4 linked regions of the Homo sapiens genome follow. The protein of the gene in region 2 interacts with the protein of the main gene of each other region in a pairwise test. Each region holds a gene or a part of one and is shown on either strand. Other genes may lie near its edges.

Evidence for each region.
Region 1: the proteins of ZNF696 (region 2) and VWC2 interact in binary tests that used the Homo sapiens proteins (3 or more experiments, as listed by UniProt).
Region 3: the proteins of ZNF696 (region 2) and PDE4DIP interact in binary tests that used the Homo sapiens proteins (3 or more experiments, as listed by UniProt).
Region 4: the proteins of ZNF696 (region 2) and TENM4 interact in binary tests that used the Homo sapiens proteins (3 or more experiments, as listed by UniProt).

Annotation. Positions count from the first base shown.
Region 1 is NC_000007.14:49,769,293-49,776,657, reverse strand, and holds the start of VWC2 (brorin precursor), read right to left. Parts: upstream 3,021-7,365; 5' UTR 2,545-3,020; intron 1,326-2,544; 5' UTR 1,223-1,325; coding exon 527-1,222; intron 1-526. UniProt on the Homo sapiens protein: BMP antagonist which may play a role in neural development. Promotes cell adhesion.
Region 2 is NC_000008.11:143,286,735-143,294,433, forward strand, and holds the start of ZNF696 (zinc finger protein 696), read left to right. Parts: upstream 1-4,682; 5' UTR 4,683-5,033; intron 5,034-6,237; 5' UTR 6,238-6,267; coding exon 6,268-6,331; intron 6,332-7,699.
Region 3 is NC_000001.11:148,966,421-148,973,442, reverse strand, and holds part of PDE4DIP (myomegalin), read right to left. Parts: intron 6,901-7,022; coding exon 6,787-6,900; intron 6,605-6,786; coding exon 6,467-6,604; intron 5,718-6,466; coding exon 5,538-5,717; intron 4,608-5,537; coding exon 4,413-4,607; intron 1,264-4,412; coding exon 1,099-1,263; intron 933-1,098; coding exon 851-932; intron 1-850. UniProt on the Homo sapiens protein: Functions as an anchor sequestering components of the cAMP-dependent pathway to Golgi and/or centrosomes.
Region 4 is NC_000011.10:78,668,027-78,675,048, forward strand, and holds part of TENM4 (teneurin-4), read right to left. Parts: intron 4,304-7,022; coding exon 4,007-4,303; intron 2,526-4,006; coding exon 911-2,525; intron 1-910. UniProt on the Homo sapiens protein: Involved in neural development, regulating the establishment of proper connectivity within the nervous system. Plays a role in the establishment of the anterior-posterior axis during gastrulation.

The sequences.
Region 1 (7,365 bases), on a different chromosome or scaffold from region 2:
TGATTTGGCACCCAGTGAGCAAATATTTTCTTTTTCTTTTAATTTTTAGAACATTTGCATGATACCCTAAACACATAATCTAGGGAAATGGCTTTTTATATGAATAGTCTCCCTTAATTAGCTATTAGTTGAAGAATATATCCCAAATGGTACCGTAAATTACCCTGTGTTTGAAAGCAGGTTAAGAATTTCACCGACAACATTCCCAAATTAGGAGCAGTACATTAATGTTGAAAGTCCCTCCGATACCTGTTGGGATCCTTCCCTTCAGTGCCATAGGCTTCATCCTCATGAAGCCCTTTTAAAGTGAACACCGAAGGAATCCCTATGGATTGGCCACAGTGCTCTGGGAAGGATTACCTCTGCCCTGAAAAAGAGAGGTCATGTCAAAGGGACGTGAGCACAGTGCTCTCCACCTCTCAGAACCAGAGAGCACCTCTTCTTCAAAGTGGGGGACCACAGAACCAAAGCTGTTCCACCCCTTCCTGGAAGGTGCAAAGTCGCCCGGCGGGCGTTCGCATCTTACCACGAACTCCTCCAAAGTCTGATAGGTCTTGCCCCGGAACTCGCAGTAGTTCTTCCTCTCCTTGCACTGCGGGCAGCACTGGCTCGTGTCGACGTGGATGCAGCGCGGGTGCAGCCTCGGGCACTCGGGCTGCGCGCACAGCGGCCCCTCCTCGGTGCACAGGCACGGGCAGGCCGAGGGGCCCGGCGCGAACTTCTCCCCGATCGCGTACACGAAGCCGCTCTCGTCCACGCAGCCCTTGCCACGGTAGTCCGGGTACACGTACTCCTCGGGTGGCTCGGGCGTGGGCGCGAGTTCCGGGCCAATCGCGTCCTGGGCGGCTGCGGCCAGGGCTTCCGCCTGCGGGGTGTCCCCGCGGGGCCGGACCTGCAGATCCCCGGCCTTGGCGCCCCCGCCCTGGGAGACCCAGGCCTGCTTCAGCTTGCTCCACGGCTCACGGCCGGCGAGCCCACGGCCGCTCTTGCTCTTCCAGTCCCGGCCGCTGCCGCCCTCGTCCCTCGCCGGGCGCCCGAGCTCGTTCACCCGCCCCGGGCCGTCCCGAGAGGCGTGCTCACGCTTCTCCTGGCCCGGCTGCTCTGGTGCCTGGGCCAGCTTCTCCAGCGGGATGCTCGGACTGCACAGAGCCACCATCAGGCAGCAGGTGACCAGGAGGGAACTGGAGAGCGCGCCAACTGCCATCGCAGTGGAGCTGGGCATCCCCTACCACGTCCCGGCGGGCGGGCGGGCGGGGAGCGCGGCCGAGGGGCGAGTCGCATTCACAGCCCGGGGGCGCGCCGCCGCCAGCCGGGAGCCGCCGTCCCTGCGGAGAGAACAGCAGCACAACTGAGCCCCGCGGCCCGCGCGCGCCCCGGCCCGCCGCGGCCCCCACCCGGGCTCCGGCATAGCTCTAGATTAACGAGCTGGGCGACGGGGGCGGGGGCAGCATGCCCAGCGTCGGTGCACGGCCGGGGTTCTTAGACATCACAAACTGTGGAGCGATACATTGGAAGCGAAATCCAAGAACGACACCGGCCGGCGTGTTTCTGATGTAGTCGTGATTAGTGTTGGAGATGGCCAAGGGCGGCTTGCGGAGCCCAGGGAACGCAGCGAGCCAGGCCCGCGCCCCCCTGCAAAGCTCTGCCTTGAACCACGTAATTCAGGCACCCAGGGTGTCCCTCCCTAGGTCCTGGCCACATTTCCCGAAGGTTATTAAATGGAGAATTCAGCAGTGGAGTTAGAGACGGACGAATGTACAGGAAGATAAGAGGGAAACTCTTCCTCATTTGCTTTAGGGGGTTGTGCTGGGAAAATGCGGGGAGGTTAAACAAAGCTTCTCCTAGGACTCCACGATTCATTTCTAACAACTTCTTAAAAGACTCCCGTCTCGGGAGCAGACGCCCCCTCCCCGCTCTCTAAGCCCCGCTGCATGAAAGGATGCCCTCGGCCCCTTGCCAGAGGGCCGGGTCGGGGATTCCCGGGGCTTCAGCTCCTCTGCCGGCCCGCCCCTCCGAGCCTTGGGAGCCAGGTCGCCGGCCGCAGCGCTCAGTCTTGTAGTGTCCTGGCTGCGGAGCAGAAGCGCCCGGGCAGCACCAAGGTGTGCAGTGCGGGAGGCTGGGGCCCCAGGGCGCAGAGTGGGCGCGAGACCCTCCTACTCGCTGGATCCCGGCCAGCCTTTCTGGATTCCAAAGTTTCTGCCGCCCAAAGGGGCTGGGAGAGCCCGAGACGCCGCAGGACACCGGCAATCCAGCCTCTCTCCGCCTCACTCCCCGAACGCCCCCACTCTGCGCACTCCGGTGCGTCTGTCCCCTCCCCCTCAGCCCTCCTCCCTGAGGGCTCCGGACGTGCCCGGCCCTGCTGACCCCCTGCCCGGTCCCTGCCGACCTCAACACTGGGCGAAGCGCCCATATTCACAAACTTGGGCGGGGGAGGGGGTTCCTCCGGAGCAGCTGAGCGGCTGAACCCAGCTGGAGCGCGTCCGGCCGCGCGGGGACACCCAGCATGCACCCTCAGCCCTGAAGACCGGCGCCAAACCTACATACATGAGCGCAGGGCGCGGGCCGGACGCCGGGCTCGCAGCGGGCGCAGGGGTAGCAGCGGCGGGCGCGGGCCCGGGTTGCCAGCGCCCATCCTGGGCCGGCCGGCGACCCGCGTGGGGCGGACCACTAACAGCCCAGCCCCACCTGCGCGCTCCGCCTGGCGCGCACACCGGGCTAGGGCGTCTCTGGGGAGTCGCTCATCGCGCTGTCAGCTGCCGGTAGTCGCGGCCCCAACTCGCGTCAGTGCCCGCGTCGCCCTCAGTCGCTCATCCTCCGGCCTCGTCCCCGCTTCTCCGAGACCAAGCGCGCCCCGGGGGCCACCCTGGCGCCGCCTCGCTCCTCTCCGCGGAGGGGTTCGGGGAGCTCTCCAGACCCGGCAGCCGGAATGTCTGGGCAGCCGTGGCGCGTCGGAGGGAAAAGAGAAGCCCGGAGCGCGGCCGGCGCGCGAGTGGCACCGAGGCCAGCATGGGAGCTAGCGCGCCCGCCTCCCGCCTCCCCCTGCCGCAGCCGCCTCCGCCCGGCTCCCGTTCCGCTCCCTCCTCTGCTGCCCCCGCTCTGGAGGCCCCGCCTTGGCCCGCGCTGCCCCGGGGGAGGCCCTCGCGCTGCCCCCGGAGAGGCCCTACCGCCGCACCCGCTCCCTTTGCTGCGCCGGACCAACCTGTCACTCGTCCGCGCGGCCGCGTCCCCACCTCCGCAGCCGGCCGCAGACCCTGCCAGGGCTGCCATTCTCCAGTCGAGTCATTCACTTTGCGCTGGACCTTTCATCTTGGCTTTTCTCTTTTCTTTAATTTCTTCCTTCCTAATTGGCCCCCTCTGGCTTTCCTCTTTGTGGACAGCTTGTTTCAGCTACTGTGTTCAGATTGGGATTCGAAGGCCGTGTTAGTTTAGCAGACTGTTGAGACTTTCTCGTCTTTGCATTCAGAAACCCAGAGAAATAGACGTTTACGAGTAAGAAACGTAAAAATCTCAAGCGCGAACTTTCTGAATCTCTGCCAATCTCTCCCCGCTCCCATCTTCCTCTTTCTGCCTGCTCTCTCTTCTACTACAAATAGAAACCTGTTTCCTAACTTTGCTAGAATCCTCAACTGTTAAGCAGAGGCCCGGTTGTTTTTACTCTTTGATCTTGTGTAAACGAGAAAACGTCAATAGTACCTGTTCAAATTAATCCCCGAAATTGAATTTTCATGGAAATGGCCCATGGCAGTGGTTCCCACTCACGGCATTTTAGAATCCCTGAAAGTGCTCGGACGGTAAACAGATAAGCTTCCCTGCAAGGTCAGGCGCTCTGGCTGGTGGGAACTGGGGAGGCTGGTTTGGGACACAGTTATGTCTATCTTTTAATAGTATAGACAAACAAATCTTAGCTGAGGTGCTAGGGAGCCCTCCTTGAAAGCCTGAGAAGGCTGCCCCTCCACCCCCTCCAACACATACACAACCAACAGGGCTGGATGGAGGATTTCTTTCTCTCTCTCTCTCTCTTTTTTTTTTTTTTCAGACGGAGTCTCGCTCTGTGGCCTAGCCTGGAGCGCAGTGGCGCGATCTCCACTTACTGCAAGCTCGATTCCCGGGTTCATGCCTTTCTGCCGCCTCAGCCTCCTGAGTAGCTGGGACTACAGTCGTCCGCCATCACCCCCAGCTAATTTTGTTTTTGTATTTTTAGTGAGACGGGGTTTCACCATGTTGGACATGATGGTCTCGATCTCCGGACCTCGTGATCCTCCTGCCTCGGTCTCCCAAAATGCTGGTGAGCCACCGCGCCTGGCCTGGATGGAGGATTTCTATGTACAGGATGATTTGAGCCCTTCTGCTGTTTCAGTTCTCACTCTCATTTTTCCTTTTTTTTTTTTTTTTAATGTTTTAGAGACACGATCTCACTTTGTCACCCAGGCTTCAGTGCAGTGGCATGATCACGGCCCACTGCAGCCTCAAACTCCTGCCTCAGACTCCGGAGGAGCTGGGTGTACAGGTCACCACACAGGGCTAATTTTTTGTTTGTTTGTTTTGTTTTGTTTCGTTTAGGTTTTTTCTTTTGTTTTTTTTTTGTTTTTTTTTTTTGGTAGAGATGGGATCTTGCTTTGTTGCCCAGGCTTGTCTTGAACTCCTGGCCTCAAATGATCCACCCGGCCTCTCAAAGTGCTGGGATTACAGGTGTGAGCCACCACACTCGGCCCTTTCGTTTCTTGTTACCCTCAGAAAAGAGACAGGCCACATTTGCTGTGGCTGCAGCTGCCTACCCACCCACCTGCCTCTCATCACATGCTCTAATCAGTTATGGCTTCTGTGTCTTTATGATGCTCTAATCCAAATATCACACCTTTCACAACACCACCAAAATAAAAACACGGCTCGAGGTGTGATCATATGTAATGTGCAAAATGGGCCCTCGGTTCTATAAAATCAAGTGCTTTTATAGCATTGGTTAGGCTACAAATTTTGTTATTTGACTTATTAGCTAATTCTGTTCTTGTCATTAAACATCCTGTTTGTTTTGTTTTGCCAACAGTACTCTCATGTGGTTACGATGGGGTAGCCCCAAACACATGTGACTAATAAGAACGAAACAGTAACATTATGTGTCCAGGATTCTAACTGAAAAATTGATTGGGGGCTCAGCTGAGGAAATAATGATGTCCCTTTATTAATCCCACCTCAATCACCGGTCTCTCTGAATCAGAAACTTCTTGTCCCAGCCAGCTGCTTCCAGTAGAGAGCCATGAATATGAGATAGCCAAGTTTTCAAGAAGAGGCCTGACAAAACTGAGGATGAATTAAGTGACCAAGTGTCCAAATGGCTTTGTTCTGTTAGATATTCTCAGAGATAGTGTTACAGGCCTGATAGAATGAGGGAGGAAAGCAGTTTCCAAGGGATTGCTGTCCTTTGTGAAGAAGAGCAATACCCATGCAGCTTGATGAGCTGAGTAATTCGAGAAAATATAGGGGACTTTGCAGGCGTTGAAGGAATATACAATTTATTTATTGCCAGTGCAATGAATTGTTGCGATTAACTTTTCTTCTTTCCTTCCTTCTTTGTTCCTTTCTTTCCTTCCTTCCTTCCCTTTGCCCTCCTTCTCCCCTTTCTCCCTCCCTCCTCCGTCTCTCTCCTTTTCCTCTTTCTCTCCCTCATTTCTTTCCTTCTTTCCTTTATTCCCTCCCTCCCTCTTTCCTTTCTTCCTTTCCACTTATTTTCCTTTTCCTTGCTTTCCTTTCCCTTCTCTTCCCATCCCCCCTTTTTCCCTTCCCTTCCCTTCACTTCCCTCCCCTCCCCCTCCCCTCCCTTCCCCTCCCCTCCCCTCCCTTCCCCTCCCCTCCCCTCCCTTCCTCTCTCCTTCCCTTCCCTTTCCCTTCTCTTTCTCTCCACTTCCCCTTGTTCTTCCCCTTCCCTTTTGCTTTTCCCTTCCTCTTTACTTTTCCATCCTTTCCTTTTTTCCAGGCTAGAGTGCAAGGCAGGAGCAGAAAGATCTCTGGTCAGGGACTGAAGTGACATGAGTGTAATCCAAGTTCCACCAGGGGCCAGTTTTGCAACTTTGAACAAGTCACTCAGTGTTACAGGCTCTTTGTTTTCTCACCTTTAAAAGGGAAGAGAGAGGATCTCTGAATGAATAGGAAGCCCAAAGCACTCTAGGAATATAGCACATTTCTGCTTTCATGCCCCGTTTTAACTGAGTTTGTTGCTTCCATTTTCTTCCTGTGTGCAAGAGTTAAATCCATCTGCTGAGGTACAGTCATATTTAGTAGCCGGTGTGAGAGTCTGAGCTTGGCCACAGGGCCAACCCTGAGCAATGCAGAGCAAGTGGGTTCCAGGCAGGATTCTAGGCCAGTCACCTTTCCTGTCCCTTTTGGCAGAATTAATCTTACCTTTATTTTCTCCCCAGAGAGTGGTTTATGTCTCTTGTAACAGTTAACTTTTTATGTCAACTTTTTTTATGTCCCTTAAACTTTTTTTTAATGTCAACTTTTTTTATGTCAACTGTTTTTTTAATGTCCCTTATAACAGTCAACTTTTTCATAGCTCTGCATTATCTGTACTCACCTCTGAAATGGTTGCTTATTTAAGGGCAATGGCTATGCTTTATTCATCCTTCTATTCTTAGAGCCAATAGGACCAATTGAGGAGGGAAAGGGAAAAGGAGGGAAGGAAGCAGCAATAGAAGGAGGGAAGGAAAGAAGGAGGGAGGGAGGGAGGGGAGAAAGAAAGGGAAGGCAATTCAGAGGGAGGGAGAGAAGAAATGCGAGGGAGGGAGAGAAGAAGAGCAAGGGAGGGAAGAAGGGAGAGAGGAAGGAAGGAAAGAGGGAAGGGAGGGAGGAAGAAAGGAAGTAAAGAAAGAGAAGAAGGTAGTGAGGGATGGAAAGAGGTAGAGAGGGAATGGGGGAGGGAAAGAAGAAGGATGAAAGAGAGGGAAAAAATGTAGGAAGGAAGGAAAGAAAGAATGAGGGAAGAGAAGAAAGGAAAGGGAAAGAAGGAAGGAATGAAGAGAGGGCAGGAGGAAGAGAAGAATTGAGGAAAAGAGGAAGGAAGAGAGAAAGTAAGAAGAGAGGGAAGAAGGAAAGGAAGGGAGGAAGGGAAAGAGGGAAGGAACAAAGAAGATAGGGAAAAGGAAGAAAAGAAAGATGAGAAGAAGAAGGATTGAAGAAAGGGAAGAAGGAAGGAAGGAGGGAAAGAAGAAGGATGGAAGAGGGAGGGAGGGAAGGAAGGAAAGCCAGAATTAGGAGAAATTCACTTATTATTTATACAATATTGGGCAAGTTCACAACCATCTCATTCAGTTTCTTACAATACTACTAGTCTTAGCAACCATTACTGTTTTTCATTTTGCCCATGGGAAA
Region 2 (7,699 bases):
CCTTGACTGCACAGCACCAAGGTGCCAGTCAGTGCTGGTCAGGCTGGCCGCTAGGTCTTGGTGCACCCGCCACTTCCTACCACCCTTGCATTTTCTCCTCTTAGGGCCACTGGTGTGTCTCACCTGGAACCTGCTCACCAAAAACCCGTCTGTTACTTCACAGATCCTGCCACGCGGGAGCCCGGCACAGCTTGGCTGAGGTCTCTGCCAGGGTCTCCTGGAGCTGCCATTAAGCTGTCCTGGTCTCCGAACTCCTGTGGAGCTTGAGGTCCTTCCCTGACCATTCGGGCCGTGGCAGGATTTCCATCCTGCGGCTGTGGGGGTCAGGCCCTCGGCTTCCAGGGGTAACTCAGAGGTCTCTGCCTCCCCTGCTCCTTCTGCCAGGAGACTGGGAGTCCTTCCTTTCTGTGTCACCTGTTTCCTGGCTGCGTGTCCACTTGCTTCAGTTGACCCACGGCCTCTTCTTTGAACAACAGTCCTCTTTCTCTGAGGTCTTTTTTTGTTTGTTTGTTTTTGTTTTGTTTGGTTTGATTGGTTTGTTTTGAGACAGAGTCTTGAAGGGGTGGGTTGCCCCTCCACACCTGTGGGTGTTTCTCGTTAGGTGGAACGAGAGACTTGGAAAAGAAAAAGACACAAAGTATAGAGAAAGTAATAAGGGGACCCAGGGAACCAGCGTTCAGCATATGGAGGATCCTGCCAGCCTCTGAGTTCCCTTAGTATTTATTGATCATTCGTGGGTGTTTCTCCGAGAGGGGGATGTGTCAGGGTCACAAGACAATAGTGGGGAGAGGGTCAGCAGACAAACACGTGAACAAAGGTCTTTGCATCATAGACAAGGTAAAGAATCAAGTGCTGTGCTTTTAGATATGCATACACATAAACATCTCAATGCTTTACAAAGCAGTATTGCTGCCCGCATGTCCCACCTCCAGCCCTAAGGCGGTTTTTCCCTATCTCAGTAGATGGAACGTACAATCGGGTTTTATACCGAGACATTCCATTGCCCAGGGACGGGCAGGAGACAGATGCCTTCCTCTTGTCTCAACTGCAAGAGGCATTCCTTCCTCTTTTACTAATCCTCCTCAGCACAGACCCTTTACGGGTGTCAGGCTGGGGGACGGTCAGGTCTTTCCCTTCCCACGAGGCCATATTTCAGACTGTCACATGGGGAGAAACCCTGGACAATACCTGGTTTTCCTAGGCAGAGGACCCGGCGGCCTTCCGCAGTATTTGTGTCCCTGGGTACTTGAGGTTAGGGAGTGGTGATGACTCTTAAGGAGCATGCTGCCTTCAAGCATCTGTTTAACAAAGCACATCCTGCACAGCCCTTAATCCATTTCACCCTGAGTTGACACAGCACATGTTTCAGAGAGCACGGGGTTGGGGGTAAGGTCATAGATTAACAGAATCTCAAGGCAGAAGAATTTTTCTTAGTACAGAACAAAATGGTGTCTCCTATGTCTACTTCTTTCTACACAGACACAGTAACAATCTGATCTCTCTTGCTTTTCCCCACAGGTCTCACTCTGTCACCCAAGCTGGAGTGCAATGGCGTGATCTCAGCTCACTGCAATCTCCACCTCCCGGGCTCAAGTGATTCTCCTGCCTCAGCCTCCCGAGTACCTGGGATTACAGGCGAACACCACCACTCCCGGCTAATTTTTGTAGTTTTAGTAGAGATGGAATTTCACCGTGTTGGCCAGGCTGGTCTCAAACCCCTGACCTCAGGTGATCCACCCGCCTCGGCCTCCCAACGTGCTGGGATGACAGGAGTGAGCCACTGCGCCAGGCCCAGCTGTCTTTGTTTTTCAGGGGTGCCTTTGGTAATTTCTTCATCGTACTTTTTTTTTTCAGGGTAGCAGGTAAGAGACTCAGTGGATAGGCTCATGGAAACAGTCCTTGAAGGGGTGGTATTCTAAGACTCAGCTACTTTTTTTTTTTTTTTTTTTTTTTTTTTTTTTTTGAGACGGAGTCTCACTGTGGAGTGCAGTGGCGAAATCTTACTGCAACCTCCGCCTCCTGGATTCAAGCAATTCTCCTGCCCCAGCCTCCCGAGTAGCTGGGACTAAGGCAAGCACCAACATGCCTGGCTAATTTTTTGTAATTTTTTTTTTGGTGGAGATGGGGTTTCACTATGTTGGCCAGGCTGGTCTCGAACTCCTGACCTCGAGTGATCCTCCTGTCTTGGCCTCCCAGAGTGCTGGGATTACAGGCGTGAGCCACCTCTCCGGCCTGGACTCGGCTACTTTTGGATCAAGAAATCCAGAATTTTCTAGACTGTGAACTTGCCCTTTATCATGGACATTTACCACCTGCAACTGCCCAGAGGTTCTCTGTCTCACCCTACACCGTGAGGACCCCCTTAGCAAACAGAATTCCAGGGCGCGGGCTCTTCGCAGGATCTGAGCTATTCGCGGGCGTCCTGAGTTGCTTGGATTCACTCCCCCACCCCCATGTCCCTGGAGTCCTGCCTTGTGTTTTCGATTCTGTTTCTCAGGGGCCCCAGCGTGTGGCCTCCCATTGTGGGAGAGCAGGAGGGAAGCGGTGAGGGGTGATTTCGGAGGAGGCAGAGCCCCGGGTGTCCGTGGGAAGCTCCAAAGCCGGGCCGCGGGACGGCTACCCTGGGCTGTGACGCAGTCCAGGATCTTCGCCAAGGCACCTGCTGGAGGCCCCTCCTGGGTCCCACGACCCCGACTGCGCCTGCCGGCTGCCAGCGAGGAGGCGGGGCCAAGGCGAGGGCGGGGCCGAGGCAGGAGGGGCGGGGTCGGCCTGATGGGCGGGGCTTCCGTGTGGGCGGGGCTGCTGGCCCTGCGGTCTGAGCCAGCGGGGAGAGGCCCGGGCGGAGGAGGCTGCGGACTCCTAGAGGTTCAGTGCCGGAAGTTGGGCCTGGAAAGGGGGCACCGCCTTCCCGGTTCTGGTGGCGGGGAGTGAGGGGACGGGCGAAAGCGGCACAGGGAACAGCATGACACGGGCCTGAGGCAGGGCACATTTGGAAAGGGGCGAGGAGAGGGCAGTGGCTTCTGGCACGGCAGCAGTGGGCATACAGAGGCAGTCGGGACCCGTCTGGAAGAGCCTCCGCCCGGGGTAAGGAGCCGGGACTGTGTCTAGGAGGCAGTGGGGAGCTCCGGAGAGCGAAGCGCCTCCTGCGCAGACTCGCGTGCTTGGAGTACCGGAGCCTGCAGGGCAAGAGAGGGTCTTCAGAAGACCCACGACGTTCCACTGGGATGCAGAGGGAAACGGTTACTTGTACTTCTACATCATCTCTTTTAGATGTGTGTGTGTGTGGTGTGTGTTGTTGTTGTTGTTTTTGTTTTGCGACAGAATCTCTGTCACCCAGGCTGGAGTGCAGTGCCAATCTCGGCTCACTGCAGCCTCCGCCTCCCGAGCTCAAGTGGTCCCCCCGCCTCAGCCTCCCGAGTAGCTGGTACCACAGGCGCCGGCCACCACGCCCGGCTAATTTTTAAAAAAAATTTTTAGTCGACACGGTTCTAACTATGTTGCTCAGGCTGGTCTGAAACTCCTGGACTCAAACAATCCTCCTGCCTTGGCCTCCCAAAGTGCTGGGATTACATTCATGAGCCTCTCGCCCACCCAGTCTAAGTGTTTTAATTTTTATCTTTTACAACAGCTTCTAATTTGTTACAAATAAACGTGCAGCATGTGGTGGGAGTGTTCAGGTGTTTACTGGTGCAGTGCGCAATGAACGCGGTTCCAGGCACGAGATGTGGAGGCCCAGAGGCAGATGCCGGGTGGCGGCGGCGCGGGACTGTCGGAGGCGCGGGCAGGGACCTGGGCTCCCAAGGCTGTGGCCCTCCCGCCCCAGTCCAGGGTCCAGTTCCAGGGGCGCGTCTGGCCCTCTGTTGCTGTCTTCTTAGGGTTCTCTCATGGGAATCGGTTCTTCAGCCTTTCTTTTCTCCCCAGAGAGGGTCTGTCTACTCGTTGTAAGAGGGAACAAGTCCACATTGCAGCTGTACACTTTGCACCCATGATGAAAAGCGTCACTTTTGCAGCATTCCAGCTGGAGATGCGTGACCTTCGGTCTGCGGCAGGCGGAAGGGCGAGAGACTTGGACAGGAGGTGCATCTTGCCCGGGGAAGGCTGAACGAATGAGAGCTCGGTCCCTGGTGAGAAAGAGCCCAGAGCCCGCGAGAGGCGGGCAGCAAGGGCTTCTCTGCAGCGGAGACGCGAGGGCGGCGTCCTGCAGGGAGGCGGGGGGCAGCGCCTGGGGCGCTCCAAGCTCTCGGCCCCAAGGAAGCCCACGCTCGGGACCCGCGTGCTGCCACAGCCCCGGGGGCCTGGAGGGTCCCGTGAGCCGAGCGGGACCCGGGACAAGCGCGGGACGCCGCGGGGAACGGACGGGAACGCGCGTGGCCGCCCCACAGCGGGCCTTCGACACCTCCTGACACGTCCTGCGGGTGCCCGGTCCTCAGTTGGCTCGAGCCGGATCCCGGCGCGCCAACGGCTCGACCTTGCCCCCCACGAGGCAGGGCTTCCTGCCCGGCAGGAAGGACTCGGCCGGCGCCTGCGGGCAACCGATGAGCTGAAGGCGCCGCGGCTGGGCCGTCCCGCTCTCCCGCCGCCGAGCGCGCTGTCCTCCCGCTGCCCAGAGCGTCGCCGGAAGTGCCGAGGGGGCGGGCCAGGGGTGGAGACTGGCGTTTCCGGCGCGCGACGGGGCGGGGACCGTAGCGGGTGCAGTCCAGCTGCTCTGGACGCTGAGGCCCCGGCTTCTCTTGCTGGGGTGTCGATTCGGGAGGGCTGAGGGCGCGGCCGAGAGAACGGGGCGGTCACCGCCGCCGTGGCCCGCGCGTCCCGCGCTCTCCTTGCAGTGCAGGCCCCAGCCGCTCTCGGGCGCGGCGTGGGGGAGGCGGCCCTGCAGGTGCGTACCCGGGGTCCGACACGTGCGGGGCTTCCTGCGAGCTGAGTCCCCGCTGCGCGTCTTCAGGCCTTTGTAAGTTGTCAAATTTCCCACCGGCCCAGCTCATCGAGCTTCTTCCCAGCTGTGAACAGGAGGGCCTGTTCCCTAATTCTTGCCGGTAAGGTACTTGCAAAAATCTGCTTCCAGACTAAAAAATTGCACTTTAAATTACCTTTTTGTAAAAGCGGCGGGGTCTCGCTATGTTTCCCAGGCTGGCCTCCTACTCCTGGGCTCAAGCGATCCTCCCGCTCAGCCTCCCTGGCAGGCGGGATTACAGGCGGCTTAAATTAAATTTACTAATTAATCACTTTATTTACTTATTTTTTTAAGACAGGGTCTCACTCCAACGCCCAGCTGGAGTGCAGTGGCGAAATCTCGGTTCACCCCAGCCTAGACCTCCTGGGCTCAGGCAGTCCTCCCACCTCAGCCTCCCTAGTAGCTGGGACTACAGACGCCCACCATCACACCTGGCTAATTTTTTGATTTTTTGTAGAGACGGGGTCTCACTATGTTGCCCAGGCTGGTCAGGAACTCTTGTAATCAGTCAGTCCTCCATCCTGAGCCTTTTGAAGTGCTAGGATTACAACTGTGAGCCACAGCACCCAGCCAAATTACATTTCTTAATTGCACTTGAGGTGAGACCTAAAAAAATGTATTGCCTACTGGTTTTTCTTCTTTGTGAGTTACCTATTCATGATCTTTGCCAATTTTCCTTCCTTTCTCATTAATATATAGAGGTCTTTATCAGATAGGGATGAATCTTTGCATTGCACGTATTCCTCCCTTTTTGGTTTTTTTTTTTTACATTAAATTTTTTTATGTAGTTGAATTTGTCAGACATCTGATGTCAGGCTTAGAAAAATCATTCCTCATTCCAAAACTTTACCATTCAAATAAGTTGTTCTTTTCTTCTGGTTTAACATTTTTATATTCAAATCCTTATAACTACCAAGAAAATTTTAAAACCCATGGGAATTTCTCTAGACATTTGAAGACTGCTGGAGGGCGCGGGCTTCCTCAGCATGGAGCTAGGAAGCTGTGGCCACGCCCACCTGTGCTCTGCGTCAGCCCTGGGTGGAGGGGGACCCGCAGAGCCTGGACCAGAGTTCCTGGGCATCCCACAGAACAGAACACCCGCTTCTGGGAGTGTCTGTTGAGCCAGGACCTTGATTGCTAGTGACAGGAGTGGGCCCAGCTGGGTGATGCAGCTCCCACAGGGCCTGTTCTGACAGTTTCCTCTGAAGGCATTCTGACCTCACTGCCCCTGGCCCCTGTACCTAGCCCTGGCTGTGATTTATTTTCCTTTTCTTTTACCTAAGCAGAAATTGTTCCAACTGCTGGTGTTCTGCAAGATGGAGCCAGGAGGAGAGCCCACAGGTGCTAAAGAGAGCAGTACCCTGATGGAGTCCCTTGCAGGTGAGGGGACATGTCCACAGTCGGGCCCAGAGTTCCAGGGCAGGAATTGAACAGGAATACAGGAAAAACACCATGTCTCAGTCACTGACGCAGAGCATATACTGTGTCCTTGGGCGCAGGGTGAGGGAGGGAGGTAAACGCAGGCCCATCAGATCTCCTGGGCATCTGTTTGGTGACTGTCTTTGCCAGTGAACTGAGAGCTTTTGGTTAGAAAGTCTGGCAGCCCCAGGCTCTGCCTCTGGGAAGGTCTCTCTCTCAGTGCTTCTCCACCTTGGCACCGTGGCTGTTTTGGAATGGACGAGTCTTTGTTGAGGGGCCATCCTGTGTGTTGTAGGACGTTCGGCAGCACCCTCGCCTCTGCCCACTTGGTGTCAGTAGGGCCCCCTCCCAGTTGTGACAATCCAAAACATCTCCACACATTGTCAAATGTGCCCTCAGGACAAAATCGCCCCCATGAGAACACTGCTTTATGTTTTGGGGCCACCCTGAGAGTGTGTCACAGCAACAGCCCGGGAGATGGCGTGGGCAGTGCAGGCCCTGCTGTGAGGTCTGGGATTGCCTCCATCGGAAAGGCGTCCTTGGGGCCTGCAGGCTGGATCCAGTAGAGCTCCACCACGTATGTGTCCCCTTCTCACCATAGTCTTGGTTCTTTTTCCTCATAAGCAATACCTTTGAGTCAGTTCTTGAACTTCCAAGTCTGCAAACCACAAGACCAGGGCTGGGCCTCTGCCAAGGGGCTTCTGTTCTGCAGGCCGCCCTGAGCGCCTCCCGCCCCCTGGCTGCTCAGTGTCAGGGGTCTGCAAGGGCAGAGAGAGGTGGGGACTGTCGATAGCAGCCTGCTCTCATCTGCCCTGGAACATCCCTGCCCCACCCCCACCTCCACAGGAGCTTCCGTCTTATCTGCGCCCTCCACATTCTTGAGAGGTGCAGCTGGGACTCAGCCGCTTCTCCTCTGCTGCCACAGCGGACTGCCTGCAGACTGAGAAGTCCTCCTCAGTTGCTGTGCTGGCCTCGTTGGCCCCCCTCCTCCTGCTGCCCCTCCTGGCTGAGTCCTCCTGCCTCCTATGCAGGCCAAGCTCAGTTGCCAGCTTTCTCATGTCCCAGGGTTTCACCCCTACCCCTTAAGCCTTTTTTCTAAATGGCCACATGGTCTGTCCCTGTGAGCCAGTGGAACCAAATCTAACCAGTGGCTTGACTGCCAGACAAGGGCCATTGATAACGCAGCCTGGATGGGGTTGCTCAGCCTGACCAGCGCCGCCGCCGCCCAGCCCACATGGGACGTGGGTTGCTGCTTCCAGCTCTTGTTCCGGATTTCTTTTCTTTTCTTTTTTTTTTTTTTAAGACAAAGTCTTGCTCTGTCGCCAGGCT
Region 3 (7,022 bases), on a different chromosome or scaffold from region 2:
AGGGCCTAGAAGCGGCTGGGCGCAGTGGCTCACATCTGTAATCTCAGTACTTTGGGAGGCCGAGGAGGGCGGATCACGAGGTCAGGAGATTGAGACCATCCTGGCTAACACGGTGAAACCCCGTCTCTACTAAAAATACAAAAAAATTAGCTGGGTGTGGTGGCTGGCGCCTGTAGTCCCAGCTACTCGAGAGGTGAGCAGAGAGATCGTGCCACTGCACTCCCACCTGGGTGACAGAGCGAGACTCCGTCTCAAAAAAAAAAAAGGTCCTAGAAGCAAAAGGCATTCATGTAGCAATGAACACATCTTGTGTCCAGATCATAGTTTCTGAATGCCATTACCCACCAAAAGGAACCAGGGAGCTCTTTAGGATAATGGCTGATTCTGGGACTGAGGCAGGTAAAGCAAAAGGTAATCATAGAACATCTTATTGTGCCAGAAACTATCAAACTATGCTAACATTATATATATATATAACATTAGTAGGTGATGTCAAGTTACAGTGAGTGGCCCCAGACTTGAAACGATACCCAGGAAAAGGTGTCAGCTCATGGCCCTGCTGTGCAGGATTGGAACAATTACCTCCTGCATTTCTGAATCCCTGCAAAGCTATCTGAAAAGGAGAGTAAGGATAGAATTTCTCTGGGCCGAATTGTGAACCCAGAGCAATCAGCTCAACTCAACATAAGGTAAGGACAGTTCTTCAGCCTTTCAGAGGAATTCCAAACTTATTTGTTCTATTAAGGTAGGAAGAGAAAAGAGTCTTGGCCAAACCTATAATACAGAGATTACTAGAAGAAAAAACAAGAGAAAAACAAAGTCCCTTAATGAAATGAAATTTGATACTTACCTAATGTGGATCTGGGTATGCTGACATCCTCTTTGGCAGTCAATGAAGTGCTATCATCTCTGGAAGGTATCTGCATTGAACCCTAAAAAATTGCAAAAGTCAGGGGACTTAGGAAGATGCAGGAACTATGATCACAATGACAGTACTGAGAATATTCTCAGAATTTGGTATTAAAATTATCAAACTTACACCTCAAATGTAAAAAGGAAATGGAATCAGCATGAATTATGTAAGTCTATAGTTCTTACTTGATCAGTCTGTTTTCCAAGACGGCCAGTGGGGGTAACTTCAGCTTGTTGGTTAGAGATGGGTGCTTGGGACATCAGGGAGTCTCTCCCTCCTAAATATTGGCGCAGGGCCTGTAATTCTGAATTTCTTTCCATTAAGGCTTGCACCAACTTCTCTGCAGCAGCCTAGTAAGAGGAAATCACAAATAACATTATAAAGATATTCTAGTAAAACAAATTTTTTGTTCTGGTATTATTTCTTCAAAGTCAACCATTTGTAAAAAACAAACAACAATGACAACAACAAAAAACAGTGGGTCCTTAGGAAATAGTTTCCTTGCTTTCAGTTTACAGGGAAAAACAGAGTTAAGTGAATGGAAAGAAAGTCTCATAGGCAGAATATTGGGAAAAAAAACTGAATTTAACACATCTGTAACAGATAAGAGAATCTGAAATAGGTTCTGCTACAACTATCAGGCTAAGGTGTTAAGATTCTGGTTTGAATTAGTATAACAAATGTCTTTATTCTCGGATAGTTGCTTCTTAGGGGTGGATTCCTTTTCACTCAAACATTTGTGTGGTTTGCTCCCTTCAGGTCTTTGCCAAATGTCACCTTATCAGGTTGGTCTTTCCTGCGTATCCTATCCAAAACAGCAATCTTGCTGGCCAAAGTATAAGATGAATATGTTTTGGGGATCCAATGATAGCATGGTGACTTTAGTTAATAATACTGTATTATTTACTTGAAATTTGCTAAGAGAGTAGATCTTAAGTGGTTTCACCATACACGCATAAAATGTGTAGTGACGGATGTGTTAATTTGTGGCAATCACTTCAAAATGTATATGTATATCAACACATCATGCTGTACACCTTGAGTATATACAATATTTGTCAATTATACTTTAATAAAGCTGGGAAAAAATTTTTTTTAAAACCCAGCAATCTCTTCTCTATCTCCAACACTTCTTACTGTGCTTAATTTTTTTTCGATGCACTTACCATTATCTAATAGATCTCTCTCTCTGCTTCCCCTACATGGAATGTAAGTTTCCTAAAGGCAATTTGGTGCTGAATCTCAAGCACCCAGTACGGTGTCTGGCACATAATAGGCACACACTACATATTTACTGAATGAATCAATTACGCACATAAACATGTTTATCAGACCACATGATTAGGATAATCTCAACCTCAAAATCACCCAACTCAGCTTGTTTCATTTCAAATCCCAGTTTTCTAAGACAGATGATGACACACTAAGGGAAAGATCTAGAACATTTTTAACTATTAATGCACAGGAAGTCTGCATTTAAACAGAAAATCTGGAAATAATAAATTGATATTAAAATTACTGAGGGTCTAAGATGATGAATCATAACACCAACTGTCTCTGAGGAAAAGTACTATTGTTTTAGGGCAGAAGCTGAGCTCTTGTCACAATTTCTAGGGGAAATATGAAAAAACCTTCCACTTTTCAGTAAGTAAAATTTGGGCTCTTTGGAGATTTGAATTTAACTATTTTAGACGTATCAGAATATTATTAAAGTACCTTAATAAAAATATCTGTGAAAACTGTGGGGAAAAAACATAATAAATAATATACAAGATATATACTGTGCTCTATCTGCCTTGGCACTCCTTTTCTCGTAGTATTTAAGAGTTTTTAGCAGTGCTCCTCCAATGCAGTCCCCGAACCTGCAGCATCACTATCACCTGGAAACTTGTTAGAAATGCAAATTCTTAAGTCCCACCTATACCTCGTAATTTCTTTCTCTGGAGTTGAGCTCCACAATCTACATCTTTAAAAAGCTATTCAGGTGATTTCTTTTGCACGTAAATTTAGAGAAGCAGATCTAGAAGAATACAACCATTAATCTTCTTGAGTTGAAAAATCTCCTGTAATTTCCATCATCTCCATTATTCTATTACCAGCAGTGCATAATTTTTTTTCTGAGGTATAATAAAGACCAATTGTCCCAAATCACAAAGAAGTTAAAAAGAAAACTCAAAGATCCTAGCCTCTTGCCAAAGATTTAAATAATTTAGAATAATTTTGTTAGGTCTATTTTAGAAACAATTTCTGAAGCACACAGCAGGACCTTTCTAGAAAGATGTGTATTTACTTCAGTGGGCCTAACAATTAGAATAGTGGAGTATAATCCTTTCACAACATAAGAAAACATAAGAAAATATTATGGGGTCAAATAACATAGGCAAAAAAGAGTCTATCTTCCTCTAAAAACTGACTACGGGGATTCTGAGCTACTGGTATCTGAAATGCAGCACAAGTCAACTAAGAGTTTTTAGCCTTGAGGAGAAAACACATAGAAATGAGGAAAAATTAACACTTTACTATGGGCAGGGCATGGTGGCTCACGCCTGTAATCCCAGCACTTTGGGAGGCTGAGATGGGTGGATCACTTGAGGCCAGGAATCGTAAGCCAGCCTGGCCAACATGGTGAAACCCCATCTCTACTAAAAATACAAAACTTAGCGGGCATGGTGGTGCATGCCTGTAATCCCAGCTACTTGGGAGGCTGAAGCAGAAGAATTGCTTGAACCCAGGAGGCAGAGGTTGCAGTGAGCCAAGATTGCGCCATCGCACTCCAGCTGGGTGACAGAGGGAGATGCCATCTCAAAAAAAAAAAAAAAAAAGAATTTACTTCTTAAATATTGTGAAATTAATATACCCTGTACTATTATGAGATTGTTTATTCTCACCATGACCTCTGAAAAATGCGATCTTTTTTCCCTCTTAACTCAGATTTTACAAAAACTAAGAGTAAACATGTTGAGTGTAAGTTTTCCCATACCTTGACTGGAAATGCAAAATATCACTCAAGTCTTAACAATTTAGAATCAAAATCGAAACACTCACAACCCCTACTCCTTTCTCTCAAAATTATCAGATTATTAAGGAAAAGAAAATGTATGTAATGAAGTTAATGGATACATGTATTGTTTAGGCACCCTTCCAAATGCAAGGTTTTCAAGAAATGTGTCATACTTTGATGATTAATGTAAAACTGTGGTCTAAGGCCAGGCGCAGCAGCTCACACGTATAGTCCCAGCACTTTGGGAAGCCAAGGCAGGATGATTGCTTGAGCCCAGGAGTTTGAGACCAGCCTGTGCAACACAGCGAAACCCCCATCTCTAAATAAGTAAGTAAATAAATAAAACTGTGGTTTAGGTAATAAATAGAAGGAAAGAAACTAACAGAGTTGACGGTAAAATATATAAATATACACACATCTATAGTCTGCAAATGCTTCCTATTTGCAGACTATAAATGCACTACATGACACTTGTCTGATCTGTGCATTAATCCTTACTTGGCTTTCCTGCTCCCTGGTGCTCACAGACTGAAGCAGGCCTTGAATCTCCATTTCATGTTCCAGCACTTGTTTATTTCGATCACTTAGAAGGTCCTGCAGCATCCTTTCCTTTCGCTGTAGACGCTGGCACAGCTCCTCTGCTATCTCACTCTGCCCTGGTCCAAGTTTGCAGAGCAGTGTTGCACTAAGATCCTAATGCAGAAAGGACACTGTAAGCTTCTGGAGGAAAGAAATGCCTCTGCTAAATATCAAAGGGCTTATAAGAATCTATCATAGAAGAAGGAGGTGTGAGATTCTTGAGAATAAGTATCATGTTTTACTCATTTTTGTTTTACCAGATCTAGCACAGGCCTGCTACACAGAAGTCTCTAAATACATGTCCCAGGAATGAATACAAACCATACAGAAAACTATCTCTGGTGGCCACTTACATACATATTGTTTTCTGAAATAAGTCTTTTTCCTATTTGTTCAGGGCATGTAACAATTAATGTTAGATGAGGATAAATGGACACTCAGTTCATTTATTTGTTTTCTCCCCAGTGTAACTTAACAGGGGGAAGCATAAAACGATAAGCTGAAAGGAATACTAAACACTATATTTGCTATCATAGCGATGGTTTCTATTTCTGTACTAACTGATGGCACATGGTGGAGGAATGGAGCCATACTGCCTAGGTTGATACTGGATCTGCTACTTATTAGCTATGTTAGCTTGGACAAGTTACTTAGCTTCAGAAGTCTGTTTCCTCCTCTATAAAAAGGAATAATAGAAAGTACCTCATGGACTTGTGAGGATCCAATGAGTTAATATCCATTAGGATCTTAAAACAGTACCTGACCCAGCATGAAGACTATAACTAATAAAGGTTAGCTATCATGTTAAAGATGCAATTTTTGGGTCTCATTAATTCTCACATAAGTTCTTTGAGAAAGTTAATTGCCAACTTAAGTTTCTAGACGTGGGGAAAAAAAAAATCCCAGTGAAAGTCAATGACTTGCCCAGGCACAGAATGAAATTAAAGACTTGGGTCACAGTCCTCCCAATCTGAAGAGTCCTAATCCAAGGCTGAGATTACATAATCACTGAACCAACTGCCTTAAAGTTAACTGAAGTCTTGCCTCCACTTCTTTGTTCCTATCATGAAGAGACGTCTGTAACTGCTGAATGATACTCTCTTGTTCCTTCTGCCAACGGCTAAATTTGGTTTCCATTTCTTCTTTCAGCCACTGGAGGTTTTGACAGGTAGTAGATAACTGTTCCACTTCCAGGCCTTTGGCCCTCAGGAGACTCTCCATACTCTACAGCCATAAAGAGAGCAATAATCAGTCAAAATGATTACCCCATACTCCTCAGGATAAACAAGAAATTAGATCCACTTTTAAATAATCTCCCATCAATTTTTTTTTATTTGCAAGATGAGAACATTGATCTAACAATGCCATACTAATCTATTTTTTTGGTTTTTAGAAACTTTTATCTAGTTTGTGGAGAGATTAAATATAGAATATATGATAAAAGGAAGTATTTTGGAGGAAGTGCACTATGCTATAAAGGATTTCTCGAAAAAGTGGCAGATAGATACATAAGCTCTAAAATAAATATGCAAAAAAGTCCACAGTAAATATAGATAAACAAGTGTTCTAATTATGGCAATTCATGGACATGTAGATAATATTAATGTAGAAGACACAATTTAATAATTGCACCCTGGTAATGCTTCAGTAAAAGTAAGAGAGAGAGAGAAGAGCGTGTGTGTATGTATACTTATGTATGAACAAGAATTGGAAATAAATCAGAACTATGTAAACAGAAATCAATATTTACTGGCTCTCCTCACAAAGTTCATATTACAAAAGAAAAGTAGAAGCGCTAAAATCTCTCACTTGCTAATTGACAATGATGGAACTAGTAACTGCTCTTTTTGGTTTTCTTCCCCCTTATAAAGCAAAATCCCTGGTTTTCAGAAAATGATGGAAGGGGGTCATGCTTCAGGCTCAGGATACAAGTGGGAGAGGAACACCAAGTCAGAGATAGGTTTTGCTCTTACTTGCATAGTAGCTTCATTGGAGGAGAGGACATCGCGCAGTCTCTCTAAGTCATGATCTCGCTCTCTCACAGCAAGACGAAGCTGGCGCAGTTCTTTTTCTTTCTCTTCTAGAGCAGAGAATTTTTCATCTATAGCCCGCTGCAAGGAAAGGAAGACTCCTAAAGCTCTGTAAGATTTACTATCCTGATCACTCTTATTCAACAAGATGGCAGAATAGAAAACCAAATCCCAAAGCAGCAAATTTAAGCAAACACAAATTTCTATAATACCTATGTAGATAGAATAATCCATAGCATAGTGGGCGAAATGATGATACATACCTCCAGAGCAACAGCTTTATCATGTATTCGCTGGCGAAGTTTCTCAAGCAACATTTCATTTGCTTCAAGGGTTTTGTCTGAGTTATCTCGATACTGTAGGAGCTCCCGAAATTCCTGAGACCAAAAATAGTTTCTTTTATTCTTTTATCCAATATTAACTAAATTACCAAGTAATTTGCTAGTTATTCAGGATAAAAAAAAAACAAGATGTGATCACTCTCCTCAAAAGTAACAAG
Region 4 (7,022 bases), on a different chromosome or scaffold from region 2:
TGGTAATGGAAGGCAGAGCTCACTTTTCAAGTTAGGGGGTAAAGGAAAGGGAACCAACACGAGCCAGGCACTGCGCTAAGTACCTCATGAAATGTATTTCACTTCACCCTTGCAACCACCCTACCAGGTAGGTGTTAGTTTCTATTGTTGCATGTGTTCCTTATTCTTTTTTTTCCCTCTTTTCCTGCCCTCTTTGGATTATTTTCTTGTCTTCCATTTTATCTCCACTGTTGACTTATTAGCTAGGACTCTTTTTTTAGTTTTTATCTTTTTAGTGGTTTCTCTAGGGTTTATAATACACATATTTAATTATAGGTAGATGTTCTAACTTCAATTTACGTATCAGGAAACTGGAATTCAGGGCAGTTAAATAATTTTTGTAACATGTCATGGCTTCAAACTGGTGGATCCTTCACTCCATTCTTACATTATCCCAAATTGAGAACTAATTTTTTTTTAAAGCCATACCTTAACCCAATCAAGGACTCATTAGCAGTTTGATTTGTGTGTCAGAAACTCCTAAAGTGCAATCCATGGGATGTATCCCATGAGATATTAGGATTTCATGGTGAAAAAAGGGCTTTTACGGTCAAATAAGTTTGAGAAATAGTGGGCAAATATATTAAATAGTTCACTTTTATAGCACTTCCCAGAGCTTATCATACACTGAAATGTACTATGAAAATGTAATAATGGTGGTGACCCTGACAAATTTATTTGATGCTGGAACCATTTTTCCAGAGTATTTTCTGAACTAGTGTTTCTTCAAACGGACTTTGGAAAATGCTGCTCTAAGAGAAAGTCAGTGTTTCCTGTCACCTTATGCCAGCTTTCTCAAAGAAGACTAAGTATTGTTAGGTAGTAAGAGCACTTTATGGGGTCCTGCCCCTGAGTGAGCCGTGGTCCTTACCTGTCATGAAGCACTTGATGTCCTGGGAGTTGCTGATGGGGTTGTTGTTTTTGAACATATAGAGATTAAAAGGCATGACGTTGCTGCTACTAAGGTGCTTCCACAGCTCGTGGTCTGGGCTAGTCCAGCGTCCGGCCAGCACATCATAATCTCGCCGGCCCATGTGGACAAGCTTGGTGAGTGGATCATAGAGGCCACCATGGTAGCCTATGATGATCTGAAAGTTGGGGTTGGTATCCATGTAGATCTCCCCATAGGCTGTGTACAGGATTTGCTTGATCATCAAACCTGTTCCACTAAAGACAGCAAGAGGGGTCCCGATGTTGTCACAAGCTATGTAAAACTCATCACCACTGCTCAGCTCCATGGCAAAGAGGTGTCCTTGCAAGTCGTAGTAGAGGGAGGTGATCTCAGAGCTGGAGTGGTTGTACAGGTGGGTGACCTTGGTGGGGTTGGTCAGGTCTGCATAGAAGAACTGCAGGTGGTGGCTGTGGCTGCTCTTGCTGGACACGCGCCGCCCCAGGCCATCGTAGCGGTACCTGACACTCCAGCTGCCAGCCCGGTTGTAGGCCTTGATGAGCAGGCCAGCTGAGTTGTACTCAAAGATATCACCGCCCCGCTGCCTCAGGAAGCCATCCTCATCCATCTTGTATTGCACGTCACCCAGCCGAGTGATGCGGTCGCGGATGTCATACCGTAGTGGTGTGAGCCGTGCACTGTTCCCAGGGCTCAGTAAGTGCAGGTTCCCATTGAGGTCGTAGCTGTAGCGCCAGAGTGGCTTGTCATTGATGGAGACTGTCTGCAGCTGGCCGTCAGCATCATACTCATAGGAGTAGCGAGTGGTATTGGCGTAGGGTCCTACCTTCAGCTCCTTCTTCACTACTCGCCCCATGTTATCATACTGGACGGTCATCCAGTACATGAGCGAGCGGAAGATCTCATACTGCACTTCCTTCATCCTGCCATATGCATCAAAATGCTTGGTGTGGGTCATGACAGCTGTGGTGATGATCTGGTTAATGTCATAGTAAATGACACCAAACTTCCCAAACTGCTCTGTCTTGCCTGACACATCATCATAGCGATAGAGATCAATGGGCAGTGGGGTCTCGTTGATCACAGCCTGCATGCTGGTCACCCGGAAGCTGTTGTCATAGTTGTAGTCAAAACGGGCGTTGACCATGCCTTCCTCAGTGAAGCGGAAGATCTGTCGGTCAATCAGGGGCCCAATCTGACGGTAGCGGATGGTGCAGGTGAAGCCCTCATTCTGTAGGTTGATGGTCTTCAGCATGCCTGCCGTCTCGTCATAGGTGAAACTGACCTTGGTGGTGTCATAGAGCGTCTCTGCCAGCTTTGACAGTTTGCCATACTTGTATATCACCCTGCGGCCAGTGCCCAGGTAGAAGGTGTGAAGGAGGTGCCCATCCTCAGTGAAGTCCTGTATGACTGAGGCATTGCCCTCAGGGGGCTGATAGATGTTTCTGTAGTAGCCCACTGAGCGGATGGTCTCTAGTGTCTGCCGCGCCACGTTGGGCATCGTCACAGAAGAGAGGCGGTCATTCTTGTCGAACTCAAAGATATACTGCCTCTGGCTGTGTAGTAGCAGCACCATGGACTGGAGGGAGAGGAAAACCAAGAGATGAGAGGAGGGTGGTGAGGAGAAAGGGTAGGTCTACATACCCGAGACTTAAAGGGACGGAATGAATGTCCAAGGAGAATCCTGAGTTTCCATGGTTCTCTTGAGTTATGCTCCAACCAGAGCTCTCCAACAGGAGTGTCACGGGATACTGCAAATAGGTTACAGATGTGCCAAGATGAGGCTTTCTCTCAGCCTCATCTTAGCACAGCTTTAACCTTAGCACACCTGTAACCTACCTGGGGCCTAGGCCTCCAGGTACTCAGGCCATTTGCTGTCCTATGGTGAGCAGCCTCGTGGGTTTGCCCCTTTGTGCAGGACAGACCTGGTTACTTTTGTGCGTGGTGGGGTGTGAGAACGGCCAAGAAGCTTTGGCCTGAAGTATGTACAGCAGTCTGGCTTCCTTGCCCCAGACTTCTCAAACCAATCTTCCTATTCAGGCAAGAGTGAGCTCCTCCAAACACAGTCTCACAATTTCTTTTACCTGCTAAACAGTTTCCGCTGACTCCCTGTGGCTTACAGCACGAAGACCATATTTGAGAAGGGCATTTAAGGCTTTGCACAATGACAGGTCATAAGCCTACTCTGGGATAGGGCAGACTGTGATGGGAATGGGAGAACCTGGTTTCTAACAATAGTCTCCTTGTGTGGCCCTGGGAAAGTTCTTCCCCTCTCTGGGTTTGGGTTTTCAGTATGTTGGATGACCTCCAAGGTCTCTCTCTCTCTTAGTACTAGCGCAAAATGTCACTTTTGGGGGTACTCACCCAGTGGGTAGAGGAGACCCACCTCAGAGCAAGCACAGCCTATGCCCTGGACAGGTCACCAGGGTCAGGAAACAAAGCAGGGATCTGGATACTTGAAATGGGGCATGCAGTGCACTTGTTCTCAGGAAAAGATCAGCAGATAAAAGGCCTAGAGGCTTTATGCTGCAAAGCTACCATTTTTTCCTATTTGAGACCAACTTTTGATTTTAGGTCATTTCTGATTCTTACCCCTGGGATGACATGAGTTCTGATGCTAGAGCAGAATAGATTTACTAAGGCCATGCCCAGCACTTGAAGCTCAGGAGTAAGTGCCTCCTGCCTATGTACTGATGCCTAGGCTTCTGCCTGGTTCTCCACAACTGGATTGTACCACATGCCCTAGACCTGGGAGCAGACCCTTGGCCTGGGTCTGAACCCCGAGTCCTGCTCTGCAAATCCAGTGAGTATTTGGGCCTCTACTCTATCAGGCAGGTCTTTCATGTTCTCCTGCCCTAGGACCACCACCTGCCATGCTATCTCCCTGATCCATCCTGATGCCTCTTGGGACCCCATGCCCTCTGTGGCAGACTTTCCTGAACATTTCCTTTTGGTGACATGGGTCAGATACAGCCCACTGAGGCCACCAGGCTGGGCTTGGCCGTGAATGATTGGCCTTCTGTATGGCAAGGCCAGTGATGCAGGGAGACAGACACCTGCCTTCTCTAAGTATGTGTAGCTCCATGTCTTCCCATCAGCGAAGATCCTGGATGTGATGCGGCCCGCCTGGTCGTATTCCATTCTTTCAGACATGATGCCCCTCTGGATGCCAGCAATGTAACCCCCAGGGGAGTATGTCACGTTGACACCATTCAGCCTGCTGCTGGGTGACCAGAGGCTGGGCCGCCCCGCCTGGTCGTACAGAATCCGAAGGGTGAACTTGCGGTGGTCATCATAGATCTTCTCTGTGCGTGTTACGCGATCAAAGTCCAGAGATAGGAGATTTCGGTTGTGAACCTGGAGAAAGGGTTGGAAGGAAAGAGAAAATTAATCTGGACCATGAGAACTTTGGTCTGATGGGCCACGTTGCTCTCAGCTCTGCTGGGAAGCTCTTGAGTAGAGGAGGGAGCACAGTCCTGCGCAGCAACAGACATGGGTTTGAATCCTGGCTCTGTCATTTGTCAGCTCTGTGAAGTTTCCTCACCTGTAAAATGGGGACAATAATGCCAATTGCACAGGGTTGTTGTGAGGATGAAGATGATCCCTATGTTGAGAAATCAGTAGCTGTGACCAAAGAGGATCTGCATGTTTTCTAATGTGATTCTTCTAATGAGGACACGTTTTAAAAGGCAGATCCTTCTTGACTCCCTGCTGAAAGGAGACCCACCAAGTGAGCCCAGAAAATAAACTGACCCATCTCTTCCACACCAGACACTGCGGAGACCAAAGCTCAGGGAGGTGAAGGGATTTACCCTGGATCTCGTGGCTGGTGAGTGACGGAGTCTGGACTTGACTCTCACACATACAACGTGCCCCCAAACACTCAGTGGCCCTCTGAGCAATTCGTGGCCTTCTGGGGGCTCTGAACTTCCCAGCCCCTGTCGGGTGTCTCCTGCTTGCCACTACAATCAGGGCTTCTTGATTGCCACAGTCAGTACCCAAGACATATTCTTCCCAGAGGTGCTGGGAGGCAGTGAGTGTTTGTCACTGGGATGGCTTTTCTGCCTGTGGGCCGAATGGGGACACAGTCCTGGCTTTGAGGCACTTTGCTCCTGCCTTCAGGATCGGGAGTGCCTTGTATAAACTCCACCTGGACTGCTAGGCCAGCACACAGTTCAATTTCCTTTCAGAGTCAGAAAGACAGGGCTCCTACAGACGTAGTGGTAGGTTAGGGTTTTTATATTTTAATAAAGAAATATACTTCAGGGGCCTGTTTCTGTATTTGGATCTGCCCTGTAGGCATTGGTGGCCCCTGAAATATTGCCAGGTATTCTGGAACTAAAATACTGGTTTCCGCTAATTGGTGTCTGGCCTTATGGGACATTTGGGCACATTTTCTGTCTCTTCCACTAGTCATTGCTTAAGGTTGACAAGTAATACAGAAGACCCAAGAGGAAAGCAGATAATTAGGTCACGTGATGCAAAATGGCATGTGTGGACCGAGGCAATGAAAGGCCCTCTGGATCCCTGTGTGGTTAAAAAAAAATGGGTGCAGGTCTAGGAATGAAGGCCAGGATTCTAGCTGCAACTTTGTGACCAACTTTTCTATCAACCTTGGGCAAGTGCCTTCCCCTATCCGAGTCTCAGTTTCTTACTCTGTATAACAAGAGTTGTTGTGAAGGTTGAAGAAACTTAGTAAATCAGTGGAGTGCTAGGCACATAGAAGGTACTGAATAGATGGTTGGAATTATTTCCATTAAATGACAGCAAACGATCGTGGTCATATCCCAGGAAGGAGAGATGTGTGTGTTTCCTCCTTCTCCCACACAAATTCTAAGGCCTTGAAAATAACGATTTATAATGACGATGCTGACTTTAGCTGTGAATGACCTGGTTATAATAAGGTTACCTTCTCTGGGGTAATCAAACACAATTGCAGATGCAAAAACAGTGTGGCAGATGATTCCCATGAAAAATCAGAGGCATTGGAGGCTGAAGCTGTGTTATTTGCAGACAGGGCACAGGAAGATACAGGGGCTGTGCCACCAACAATGACAGAGGCCTTTTTAAAGTATCTTTTGGAAGGTCCCGCTGTGACTCCCCTCAGGGTGGTGCCACCCAGCCAGCTGTCCCCCTTTCTCCCTGGAGGATCTCTAGTGAAGGGGAGCTGTACCTTTTTGGCAAAATTAATAAAATTAAACAGCTCACTGGGGAGCCGCCTAATGCGTCCTGTGCTCGGCAGTGGCGGCAATGAGATTATTTCACCTCTTTATTAAAAAAGTTCCCAGTTGTATAAAAAATGAACTCCATTATGGGGAGGCACACCCGGCTAACATTCTAATTCCACCTGCCACCACTGTGGGTGGCCATTTATTTGGGAGGACATGTAGACGTGGCCACCCGTCCCAATCTCAGGTTGGGAGAGGGACCAATTAAAGCCTGGGAAACTTTTGGTCCAGTTCACACAGCAGAGAGGAAATCCTAATCATGCTAATCGCTGCCATTTATTGAGCACCTGGAGTCTACCTGTGCTGGGCTAGGTGCGTTGATTGTATCATCTTGTTTCTGCAGAGGCACCTGAGGCTCAGAGGAGCTGCTCAAGGCTCCACATGGCACAGGCAGGAATCAAACCCAGGTCAAACTTCCCATTGAGGACACTGCCTCAGAGGCGCATGCAGGAGTCTGCGAATTCAGACGGGGGAGCTCAGTGAGGCCACAGAGAACAAAGACAGCTAGGCCTTCCTCGGGGAGCTAGTGCAAGGCTGTTTCCCACAGTAGATAGTCACTAGAGCTCTTGGCTGTTGAGGGAACAAACGAAGCCTGGTTTTCTGGGTTCCAGTTGTGTGATATTGGATAAGTCACTTACTGTTTCTGTAGCTGCTGTGGGCCTATTTTCTAGTTTTTTTTTTTTGAGACAGAGTCTTACTCTGTCGCCCAGGCTGGAGTGCAGCGGCGCGATCTCGGCTCATTGCAACCTCTGCCTCCCAGGTTCAAGCAATTATCCTGCCTCAGCCTCCTGAGTAGCTAGGATTACTGGTGTCCCCCATCATACCCAGCTAATTTTTTGTATTTTTAG